Linked DNA regions of Homo sapiens: region 2 is linked to region 1. Evidence: fine-mapped expression QTL. A gene starts in region 1. The other region holds a variant in brackets. All regions are shown on one strand. Distances are between the middles of the regions. Region 1 holds the start of C17orf67 (chromosome 17 open reading frame 67). Region 2 overlaps C17orf67 (chromosome 17 open reading frame 67).

Evidence for each region. PIP is the estimated chance that this variant, and not a neighbour inherited with it, causes the effect.
Region 2: its variant is the best candidate, but not a certain one, in a credible set for the expression of C17orf67 in lymphoblastoid cells (GTEx, PIP 0.53).

What each region holds. Positions count from the first base shown.
Region 1 is chr17:56,831,746-56,837,120 of GRCh38, reverse strand. C17orf67 (chromosome 17 open reading frame 67) reads left to right here and starts at 3,201. Exons shown (of 8, transcript NM_001085430.4): 1 at 3,201-3,503; 2 at 3,779-4,223. It overlaps DGKE (diacylglycerol kinase epsilon), which reads right to left and starts at 2,970. Exons shown (of 12, transcript NM_003647.3): 1 at 2,861-2,970; 2 at 1,862-2,343. The coding sequence starts at 2,325. LOC124904036 (a long non-coding RNA gene) reads left to right here. Exons shown (of 3, transcript XR_007065857.1): 3 at 1-761. RefSeq lists enhancers at 1,517-2,114, 1,846-2,245, 2,714-3,311 and silencers at 2,636-3,705, 3,679-3,973.
Region 2 is chr17:56,795,191-56,800,565 of GRCh38, reverse strand. All of the region lies in intron 6 of C17orf67 (chromosome 17 open reading frame 67), which reads left to right. Among named protein-coding and RNA genes, the nearest start is that of C17orf67, 36 kb to the left of the region's middle. The variant A/G (reference allele first, on the strand shown) is at 3,103.

The DNA of each region.
Region 1 (5,375 bases):
CAACCCTAGAATTTGCATTTCTAACAGATTTTGAAGAGATGCTGATGCTGCTGGTCTAGGGACCTTACTTTGAGAACCACTGAGATATAGGATATTACGTTATCACCAAAAAGGAAAAACTGGGGGAGGAGGGAAGCTGAGTAGATCAGGTAAGAGTTCCTGAAGGAAAGGACAAGGACATGGGATGGGTCTTTAAGGGTGCCTAGAAGCTAGCCAGAAGAATACTGAGAGGAAAGCTTTGAGCAAAGGGGCAGAAATGTCAGAAAATGCCTGACGTTTTAAGGAAATTACAAGAAGCTTAGTGTTGCTGGTGCATAAAGTTTAATGCAGGTGGTGGTAGATAAAACTAAAAGGACAGAGGCCAGAAAGTACTAGGACCTTATGTACCCTGTGAAAAAGCACTTAGGGGTTTACACTGTAAAACAGTCAGCTTACCCGATGGGGAGCAATTTAAAGGATTTTAAGCAGAGCAGGGACTTGATCAGATTTGCATTTTTAGAAAGATCATTTGGGTGGAGGATCAGAAGCATGATTATGTGTTCAAGAGTATTTGAAATACGGTTATTTATGGAAACCATTTTTAATATAATTCTGCACAGACACAGACTGCTGGAGGCTACACCAGAGAAGGGAAGGAAATAGAACAATACTCAATTCATTATGAAATTTATTTAAAGTCCCTGCTAACTTGGCTCTCACTGATGCCAGAAGGACAGCATTTAATTTTTAAAGATACCAAATAAAAATGCATGGTTACAAAACTTTGTAGTTGTCTAGAATACATTATTTTGAACATTTATTCTTAAGCCTCTTTGATAATGTGTAAAATTATTTAAAATAAGACTTAAAAACAGGTATTGACATTATAATAGCGTTCATGCTAATGAAAGAATTTCTGCAAAAAAAATTAAAAAAATTAAAAAGCAGCTTCCTATTTACTGCCTATTTCATTTCTTAAGCATGTTTATGCGCCTTTCTACTTGTCAGAAATAAAACCCATTACAATGAAGATGTCCAGACTTAAGGCTCAAAGGAGGCTAAGTGTTAGTCCAGAGCTGGAAATCCTGGAGGCCAGTCCTATTTTACCAGAGTGGACCTAACGGGCTTTAATTTTCTCAACTGTGAACTGAGTTAGAATAGATCATTTGCAAAGCAGCATTCTCCTTTACCAATTTCCAACATCAGCAAAGGACATCTTCACCTATTTTCAAACAATATTTAAGGACAAAAATGTGTTGTCCAGTGTGTATATAAAAGACATTAAAATATTCTTGGCTTAATCAAGGTCACTTATCTAAGATTCTACATGTCCTGAAAGACCAAGCGTCAAAAGGAATATTCCTTTCAGTGTTCTTTTTGAGTATATTTCGCTATGGTACCAACAGCTATATTAGCAAAAGACATAAAAGTGCTGCCTTGGAATGACACTTGTTTTCACTGCACATTCATAGTACAAAACCTGTGACCCATCAGTTTTGCGGCTGAAGGGAAAAGTTAATTTGTCCATATTTCATTTTTCCTTATTTAAAATAAGGAGATAATCGATAGGAACAAAAGCTAAAATATACAGTGGCCATGAAGCAGGCACCACTTAGAAACCTCTGTATTAACGTTAGGAGCCAAGTTTTATTACCCAAAAGGGCAGGCTGGCTGAGGAGTGGAGGCTGGATGCATCGTCTCAGCAAATGACTACTGCAAAGCTGCCACGCTTGCACAAACTCAGGGATGTTTATTTATTAGCTTGTTTCCTCAAAATGAGTTTAGGTCATCAGCAGAGATTAAAGCAGGCCTCTACACCACTCTATGAAATCCTGATTCCCACGGCGCATTCTGGGACAGTGAGTGTCCACGAAGACCATACCTGTAATCGCAAAGCTTGGGTTGACAGCCACACTGCTGCTTGCAAACCATACAGTAACTGCACAGGGGCACGTTGCCCCGGATCCAGTGGTGGGGCATGGCGTCCAGGACCTTGGTGTCATTCTTGAGCATAATCTCCTTGCACTGGAAGCGCTTGTCGGCCTTCCTGAGGCAGCCCTCGTCCACGCGGAGCCCGCAGCAGTCGCAGAAGGCGCCCTGCAGAATGTGCTGCGCGCACACGCAGCAGTAGGTGGGCTGGCTGAACAGGTCCGTGTCGCGCCACCCGTGCTTGCTCTTGCGGAAGATGTCCCTGCGGTGCAGCTGCCGGCGCGACCGCTGGAGGCTACACCAGAAGGTGATGAACACCGGCAGCAGGACCGAGCACAGCGTCCACAAGATCAGGTGCCCGTCCGCAAACAGGCCCTCGGAGGGCGAGCCCGGCGCCGGCCGCCTCTCCGCTTCCATCTTCTCCAAGGACGATACCTAACCAGAAAAGAAACAGGCGGTGCACCCCGAGCTCGCCATCCCTTCCCCGCCCCCTTCCTGCCTTTCCGGGGCCAAACCGGGCGCCCTCAGTGAAGGTGGCTCCGCTCTCCCGAGGGCGGGACTGCGCCTCGTCCCCCCGTCTCCCGGGACCTGCCGCGCCGAGAAGGCGACGTCCAGCCATCACGCTCCAATCCCCACTCCCCAACCCGCCCCACCTCGGGAGCGCGTCCAGGAGCCCAAGGCGGCTGCTGCTGCCGCCGCCGCCTCACCTTGCCGCCGGTCTGACCCACGGAAGGGCGCAACATACAGGGGCAAGCTGCCCTCCACCGAAAGGCCGGGCGTTCAGGCCAGGCAACGCCGGTCGGCGCCCGTAACCGTCGGCCCAGGCCTCGCACTCCCCTCCGGGGCGCCGTCTCCTCCCGGGCCCCACCCGCTCCCACGCGCGGCCCGGCGACCCTAGCCCCTCTCGGGAGGCCTCCGGAGACCTGCGCCGCGCCGGTCCTCGAAGCCCTACCTCGCGCGGGTGGAGGCGCGGCTCCGGGCCAGCAGGCCTTGGCCGCCTCGCGCAGGAGGAGAACGACGCTGGGCCGCCAGCAGGGATGAAGCCGGGCGGGGGAAACGCTTAAGGCTCCAGCCGCACGCACGCCGATCCGGCGCGCGGGGCCGCGAGCTGGAGGCGGGGCCTGTGGCGGCGAGCCCCGTGGCTGGGCGGAGCCAGGGCTGACGGGCGGGGCGGAGGTGTGAGGTGGGAGGGGAGACGGACCGGCCTGAGGGGGCGGGGCCGTGGAGGAGGCTGGAGACGGATGGAAGAGGCAGGGCACTGCGGCTGGGGGCGGGGCCTAGGGGAAGGGGGCGGAGTAACAGTGGGGCGTTTGAGAGGATGGAGGGTTGAATGCCAAAACTTCGTAATCGTAGAAAATTCTGGAAAGCCGCCGGCGGGGCAAGGCCACGAGGATCCTCCTCGCAGCACCGCGCCGCGCGGGGCCCAGGGGCCGCGCTCACGCCCGCCGCTCGGCGCAGACACGAGTGCCCCCGACTTGAGCCGAACCTCTAGCCGATGCCGGCGCCGCCGCCGCCGGGGATGCGTAAGCCGACTGGGAAGCGAGGGGGGGAGGCGGCCTGCGCGGCACCGCCCGACCTGGCCGCGGCGGGCTGAGGTAGGTGTGGCGGCCGCAGTAACGCAAACCTGAGGGCTCCTCCGCTGCGGAGCGGCGGGCGGGCGCGGAGGCCGAGGGCGAGCGGGGCAGCCGCCCGCTCGTCGCCGCTGACCCCGAGCCCGGCCGCGGTTTCCGCCCCCTGCCGTGGCGGGCGGGCCTCCCCTGCGCTACCCCCTCGCCCGCGCCCGCCAGCGCCCGAGGCCGGGGAGAAAGGGGAGCAGCGGGAGCCGGGGACTACCGGAGATGGGAGCACGCCTCCTGCTGCTGTCGTCCAGCCCCAGGTTCCGGAGGAATGCTCGCTCCCCGCTGGAGTCCTACCAGCCCAACACGGACCTGAGCCGCGACCACGCGGGCTGCAGCCTGCAGCACATCAGCTACCCGGAGAACGCGGACGCGGAAGCACCGCTGCTCAGCACCCCCGAAGAAACACGGAATCCAGAGAGGCACAGGCACCGCCCCGGCGCGCACAGCTGCACTCAGCGGCTTCCTTCCTACTACATACATACATAGGAGTGGGAGCCGAGGACCACTTGTTGCTTGCGGACTTCCTCTAGCATAAAAGATGGAAAGAAAACACACACCGAAGCAAGGGACCAAAGGAACAGAAAAGAAACGCAGAGATCATAGGAAAACTGCAAAGAAATACTTGATAATATCTTCCAAACGATTAGAGAAGACATAACATTCATTAAGAATACACATATAGATGTATATATACGTGTATGTGTGTATGTATATATTATTATGTGTGCATATATATGCATGTGTATGTGCGTATATTTGTATTAACTGTAGAAGATAAAGCTAGACACTAGTAAAAGTGGTAAAGCAGATTTTAATAATATACTATTGTAATAGGGAAGAAGGTACCTCGTGAACGGAACTGAACTTTGTGCAGAAGTGACTAGGTGTTTAAGAGGGAGGAGGAGGGAATGTGAAGGGGATGAGCAGGAACTCAGTAGTCAGGAAAGTGAAACTTGTGAAGGGTGGGTCAGTGTAAGTAAGGTTAGGCGACAGTGCCTGTTAGATGGCTGTTATGGGAGTCAGGGTCCTATCCTCCCACAGTAACTGGGAGATAGGCCCTTTGCTTCCTGGTGATTGCATGTTGGAGGAATGGCTTTCAGGTTCTTGAGAAGGATACTCCTGATGTGTAGGAGACATTACATCCCAGAGAGACAGAGGAAGGATTCACAATTGTTTAGTTTTTTGTTGTTGTTGTTAACTCTTTAAGAAAGGGACATCAGGGGCTGCTTGTAAGGTGTTGGCAATAGCCAACAGTGAGTTCTTTTGGCAGCTTTCCCAGGAAGATACTTTAGGGGGTCTGGGGTCATCCTATGGATGCAGCTTTGAGCAGTTAAAAACTATGTGTTTAGGCCGGGCGCTGTGGCTCACGCCTGTAACCCCAACACTTTGGGAGGCCGAGGCAGGTGCATCACGGGGTCAGGAATTCAAGATCAGCCTGGTCAAGATGGTGAAACCCCGTCTCTACTAAAAATACAAAAAATTAGCTGGGCATCGTGGTGAGTGCCTGTAGTCCCAGCTACTTGGGAGGCTTGAGGCAGAGAATTGCTTAACCCAGGAGGCGGAGGTTGCAGTGAGCTGAGATCGCACCAATGTATTCCAGCCGGGGCGACAGAGCGAAACTCCGTCTCAAAAAAAAAGAAAGAAAAAGAAACTGTGTGTTTAAGCGTTTTGATATAGGGGGAAGGATGGACCCGATCCTTTTTGCTGAAGTCTGCAGATTTCATAGGCCAAGGTGGAGGCCTAGTTGAAAAGGGGGCTCAGGGAAGCCTGGCTAGAGCTTGGTCAAGGAGGGGATCTTCATCAGTCGTACGTATGTACATGGCACGTGGACCTGCATAGACACGTGTT
Region 2 (5,375 bases), 37 kb after region 1:
GCCCGTTCAGGGAAAGATGGAGAACAAAGCTCAAGTGTATTGATGGTGAGAGAAGAGGCTCAGGAGATGGGTGTAGCTGGGTCATGGAAAGACCTTAGCCATATTAAGGAATCAGAACTTTCTCCTGAGACCAGTGGGAGGCATACAGACATTTTAAGTGAAGAAGCAACGTGGGTAAATTAAAAAAATATATCACTTTGCTGCCGGGCGCAGTGGCTCACGCCTGTAATCCCAGCACTTTGGGAGGCTGAGGCGGGTGGATCACGAGGTCAGGAGATTGAGACCATCCTGGCTAACACGGTGAAACCCCGTCTCTACTAAAAATTCAAAAAATTAGCCGGGTGTGATGGTGGGTGCCTGTAGTTCCAGCTACTCGGGAGGCTAAGGCAGGAGAATGGCGTGAACCCGGGAAGCGGAGCTTGCAGTGAGCCGCGATGGCGCCACTGCACTCCAGCCTGGGCGACAGAGCGAGACTCCGTCTCAAAAAAAAAAAAAAAAAAAAAAAAATTAGTTTGCAACAGGATACAGAAAAATCAAGAGGGATTTTTCAACCTCTTCTTTATAACTTTCTTTTTTTTTTTCATGACTTTAAGAAAGTAATATGTATCACTGTTGTGATAAAAATAAAAACCAGTAAAGCTATTTTTGTTCTTTATATTTTAAAAACCCATTCTGACAAAAGACTTGAATAGACATCTACTGAAGAAGATATACAGATGGCAAGTAAGCATGTGAAACATCGTACATCATTAGGGAAATGCAACTTAAAACAACGAGATGCCACTATACACCTATTAGAATGGCCAAAATCTGGAACATGGACAACACCAAATGCTGGTGAGGATGTGAAGCAACAGAACTCTCACTCATTGCTGGTGGAAATGCAAAATGGTGCAGCTACTTTGGAAGACAGTTTGGCAGTTTCTTACAAAACCAGACGTACTCTTAACATACGATTCAATAATCACACTCCCTGGTGTTTACCCAAAGGAGTTGAAAACTTACATCCACACAAAACCTGCCCCCAGATGTTTATAGCAATTTTATTCATAATTACTCCAATTTGGAAGCAACCAAGATGTCCAGGTGAATGAATAAATAAACTATGATACATGCAGACAATGGAATATTATTCAACCCTAAAACAAAATGAGCTATCAAGCCACGGAAAGACATGGAGTTAAACTTAAATGCATATTACTAAAGAAAAGAAACCAATCTGAAAATTCAATTACATGTTCTGTGATTCTAACTGTATGACATTCTGGGAAAGGCAAAACTATAGAGACAGTATAAAGATCAGTGGTTGCCAGGGGTTAGGCAGATGAGCAGGCAGAGCAAAGCAGATTTTTAGGGCAGTGAAACTGTTCCGTGTGATATTGCAATGGTAGTGCTAGGGTTTGTGTGTGGTTTGTTCGGCCCCATCAAGTCTCATGTTGAAATTTGATCCCCAGTGTTGGAGGTGTGGCCTTATGGGAGGTGTTTGGGTCATGGAGGTGGATCCCTCATGAATAGCGGTAATGAGGGAGTTTTCACTCTTAGTTCCCATGAGAACGGATTTCTGCAAAGAGCCTGGCACCTTCTCTCTTTCTTGCCTCCTGTCTCACCATGTGATCTGTGTATATCAGCTCCCCTTCACCTTCTGCCATGAGTGGAAACTTCCTGAGGCCCTCATCAGAAGGAGATGTTGGTGCCATGCTTTTATTTTTATTTGTGTTTATTTATCTTTTTTGAGACAAAGGCTCGTACTGTCTCCGAGGGCTGGAGTGCCATGGTGCGATCTCAGCTCACTGCAACCTCTACCTCCTGGGCTCAAGAGATCCTCTCACCTCAGCTTCCTGAGTAGCTGGGACTACAGGCATGCACCACCACATCTAGCTATTTTTTTTTTTGTATTTTTGGTAGAGACAGAGTTTCACCACGTCGCCCAGGCTGGTCTCGAACTCCAGAGCTTGAGTGATCTGCCCACCTCAGCCTCCCAAATTGCTGGGATTACAGATGTGAGCCATGATGCCCGACTGCCATGCATTTGTGTAATACCAAGAGTGAGCCCTAATATCAACTATGGACTGGTGATGGTGCTGTGTCAATGCAGGTGCATCAACTGTAAAAAATATCCCATGCTGGTGGGGGATGTTGGTAGTGGGGGAGGCTGTGCCTGTGTGAAGACAGGGGATATATGGGAATGCTATATTTCTGCTCAATTTTGCTGTGAACCTAAAACTGCTGTAAACAATAATGCCTATTAAGAAAACAAAATAAAACAATAAAAAAAACCCCACAAGAAGAAGAAGGTAGGACAAGGGGTAGTAAGAGCCTGCAGAGGTTGTGGCAGGGGTCTAGCCCCAGGGCTGGGGCCTAAGCTGGGCAGAGGCAGTCGGGCTGGGTAGAAGGGATTCAGGAGCATTCACAGGAGTTAGGCTGCTTAGATGGTGGGAGGGCAAGGAAGAGGAGTGCGCTGAAGCTTCTTGCTTAACTAGCAATGTGGTGCCATGAAGAGAGATATGATGAACCACCTTCAGTATGATAGGCAGTACCTGTAGGCCAGAGATTGCACTAGAAGATGGAGAGGGAAGGAGGAGAGCTTATAACTGACTAAGACAAGAGAAATCACATTTTATTCTTTTATTTAAGAGAGGTCCTGTTGTTTTATCATTTTTCTGTTTTATGCATCACTTATAGGACATAATGCCATGAGTAACCCATATACAGAAAATTCACAGCCTGAACTGGCTTCGGGGAAGACCAAGGCGCATTTGGAGGAGAAGGCCAGCCCTAAAGGCTGGAAGTGACATTCCTGTTGATAAAGGGCAGAGCACGAGCCAACTGAGAGAGGAGATGCAAAGACAAAAATTTCATGCAAAGGATGGGTGTGTTCAGAGGCTGATGAGCTGCAGGTTGCAGAGAGGCCCTATCATGGCCCTCTGTTATTTGTGCTGTCTGCTCCCTTCTCTGGTGGTAGCACACCTGCCACTCCTCATCATCCTGGTATGGACGCGGTTTTTCTCTGCCCTGACCCCAGTCCGTTCTCCACCCTGCTGTGCCCCACTCTGTGCTCAAGGAGACTGACTCCTGCAGACTGAATCCCTTGGTTCCCTGGCC[A/G]GCTGGCTTCTGATTGGGCCCTGCAGGATATTGAGGGGAAGAGGAGGGAGAGGATGGGCTGTTTGTTCCCTGTTCCCTCCTTGCCTTGCAAAGGTTGTGCTGTGCCCCCAAGACCACAGCAGCCCCACCCACCTGGCCCCAGGCCTAATGGCTCCTCTAAGGGTTCTCCACCCTTGGCCCTGCAAACTTAGACATGGTCATGACTTCCCTCTATTGCTAGTCCCTGGGTGCTAGAATATTCTTTGATAGTTCCCTTAACCCTACTCACATGGCTATGAATGTTCCCTTCATTAAAGTCTCTTCAGGCAACCATTTCAGGGAGAAATTGCGTTTTTGAGAAGCATAGAGATTAACAAAGGCTGTCAATGACCATTGTAGACCAAGGTGGGAGGGCAGGGCCACTCCCTGCTGTTGGGAGGAGTGGGGGAAGGAGGGGAATCCTACCCAAAGCTGCACTCATCTGCTGGCTTGCAAGTACATTATCCAGAGCCACAGACAAAACCCGTGGGTAGAGGCAGATGCTGACTCCTTGCAGGTAGACAGCACTGGTGAAGGCTTCGAGGAGGAAGGTGGCCCTGGTGGGCCACCTTTGACCCCTTTTGGGTCACTCTGTCAGAGTGGAGCAGGGATGGGGGAGGGAGGAGGCATGGGGTGGGAGGAATGCAACACGCAGGGGTGGGACAGAGAGAGGGGTGAGGAGTCTGCGGCAGCCTTGGTGGACAATGGTGAAGACCTGACCTAGGGAAGTGGCAGAGACGAGGGAGGGCATCTGAGAACTATTCCGGAGATAGCCTCAACGTCCCGATGCTCAGTCTTATGTTGAGTTTGAGGGTGAGTGAGGCAATGACAGTTGGTGTTCTGGAGCGGGTTCCTGAGTAGATGGAGATGCTGGCCACAGTAAGGGGCAGGACTGGTCAGGGCAAGGAGCTGCTTTCTGTTGTGGACAGATTAATGTATGGGGCTGGCCACCTTTCATATGAACAGAATCATACACCGTGTGGTCCTTTGTGACATAAGTGTCCTAAGTGGCTTCTGTCACTTAGCATAATGTTCTCAAGGTTCATCCATGTTGTAGCAGGGATCACTGCTTCATTCATTTTAATTGCCAAATAATATTCCATTATATGGAAGTAGCATATTTTATTTATCCACTCATTTATTGGTGGACATTTGGGTTGCTTCTGGTTTTTGGCTGTGACAAATGATGTTGGTGTGAACATCTGTATACAAGTTTTTGTGTGGACATCCATTTTTGTTTCTCTTGGGTATATACCTACAAGTACAGTTGCTAGCCAGGAGTACGAATGGTAATTCTAGGTTTAATATTGTAAGGAACTGCCAGACTATTTTTACAAAATGCTTCTCTATTTCTAGTAACATTTTTATATTTTAAAGTCTTTTTGTTTGATATTAGCATAGCAACCCTAGCTTTCTTCTGCTTATCCCTTGTCTTTTAAAAAAGATGATTTTATCAGAAATGCATATAGCCATAAGTAATATATTACATGATTTAGTTACACATATTTGAACTTTATAAAAATAGTGTCACACTATAAATGTAGTTACTTGGACTTTTCACTCAGTATGCTATTTCTAAGACCCATCTATGTTGTTGTATATAGCTACAGTATAATTTATGTTCTCTGCTGTATAATAGTCCATGGCATAACCCTAACATAATTTATTGATTCATTCTCCTGTAAGTGGCTATTTGGCATGTTTCCAGTGTTTTGCTATGACAAATTTATTGCTGCTATAAACATTTTTATATGCCTTTCCTGATATAAGAGTTTCTTTTGTTCTCAGAGCAACTAGCAATATAACTATTAGCTAGGAACTTGTTAGAAATGCAACTTCTCAAGTCCCACCCAAGACCCACTGAGTCAGAAACTGTAAGATAGGCCCAGCAATCTGTGTTGTAATATCAGATATCAGGTGACTCTGATATCTGATAAAGTTTGACGTCCACTGCGCTAGGGTATAAAGTAGGAGTGAAATTTCTAGATTGCAGGCAATCAGATGTTTTCTGAAGTTGTTGTCCCATGTTTTCATGGAAATCCACCCGCTCAGCACTTAGTATTGTCAGACTTCTTTATTTTGCCCACTGGGTGGGTCAGTCTGACTGGTCTTCCCTACAGAGAGGCATGGGTGTGGCCGTTGATTTCTTCTCCCTGCCTGTCCTCCCATCCTGCCCTGTCTAGGGAGCCAGAGCCACACCACGCATATTGATCCCTTGGCTGTCACTGTGGGTGAAGCCTTCTTCAGTGTGGTTT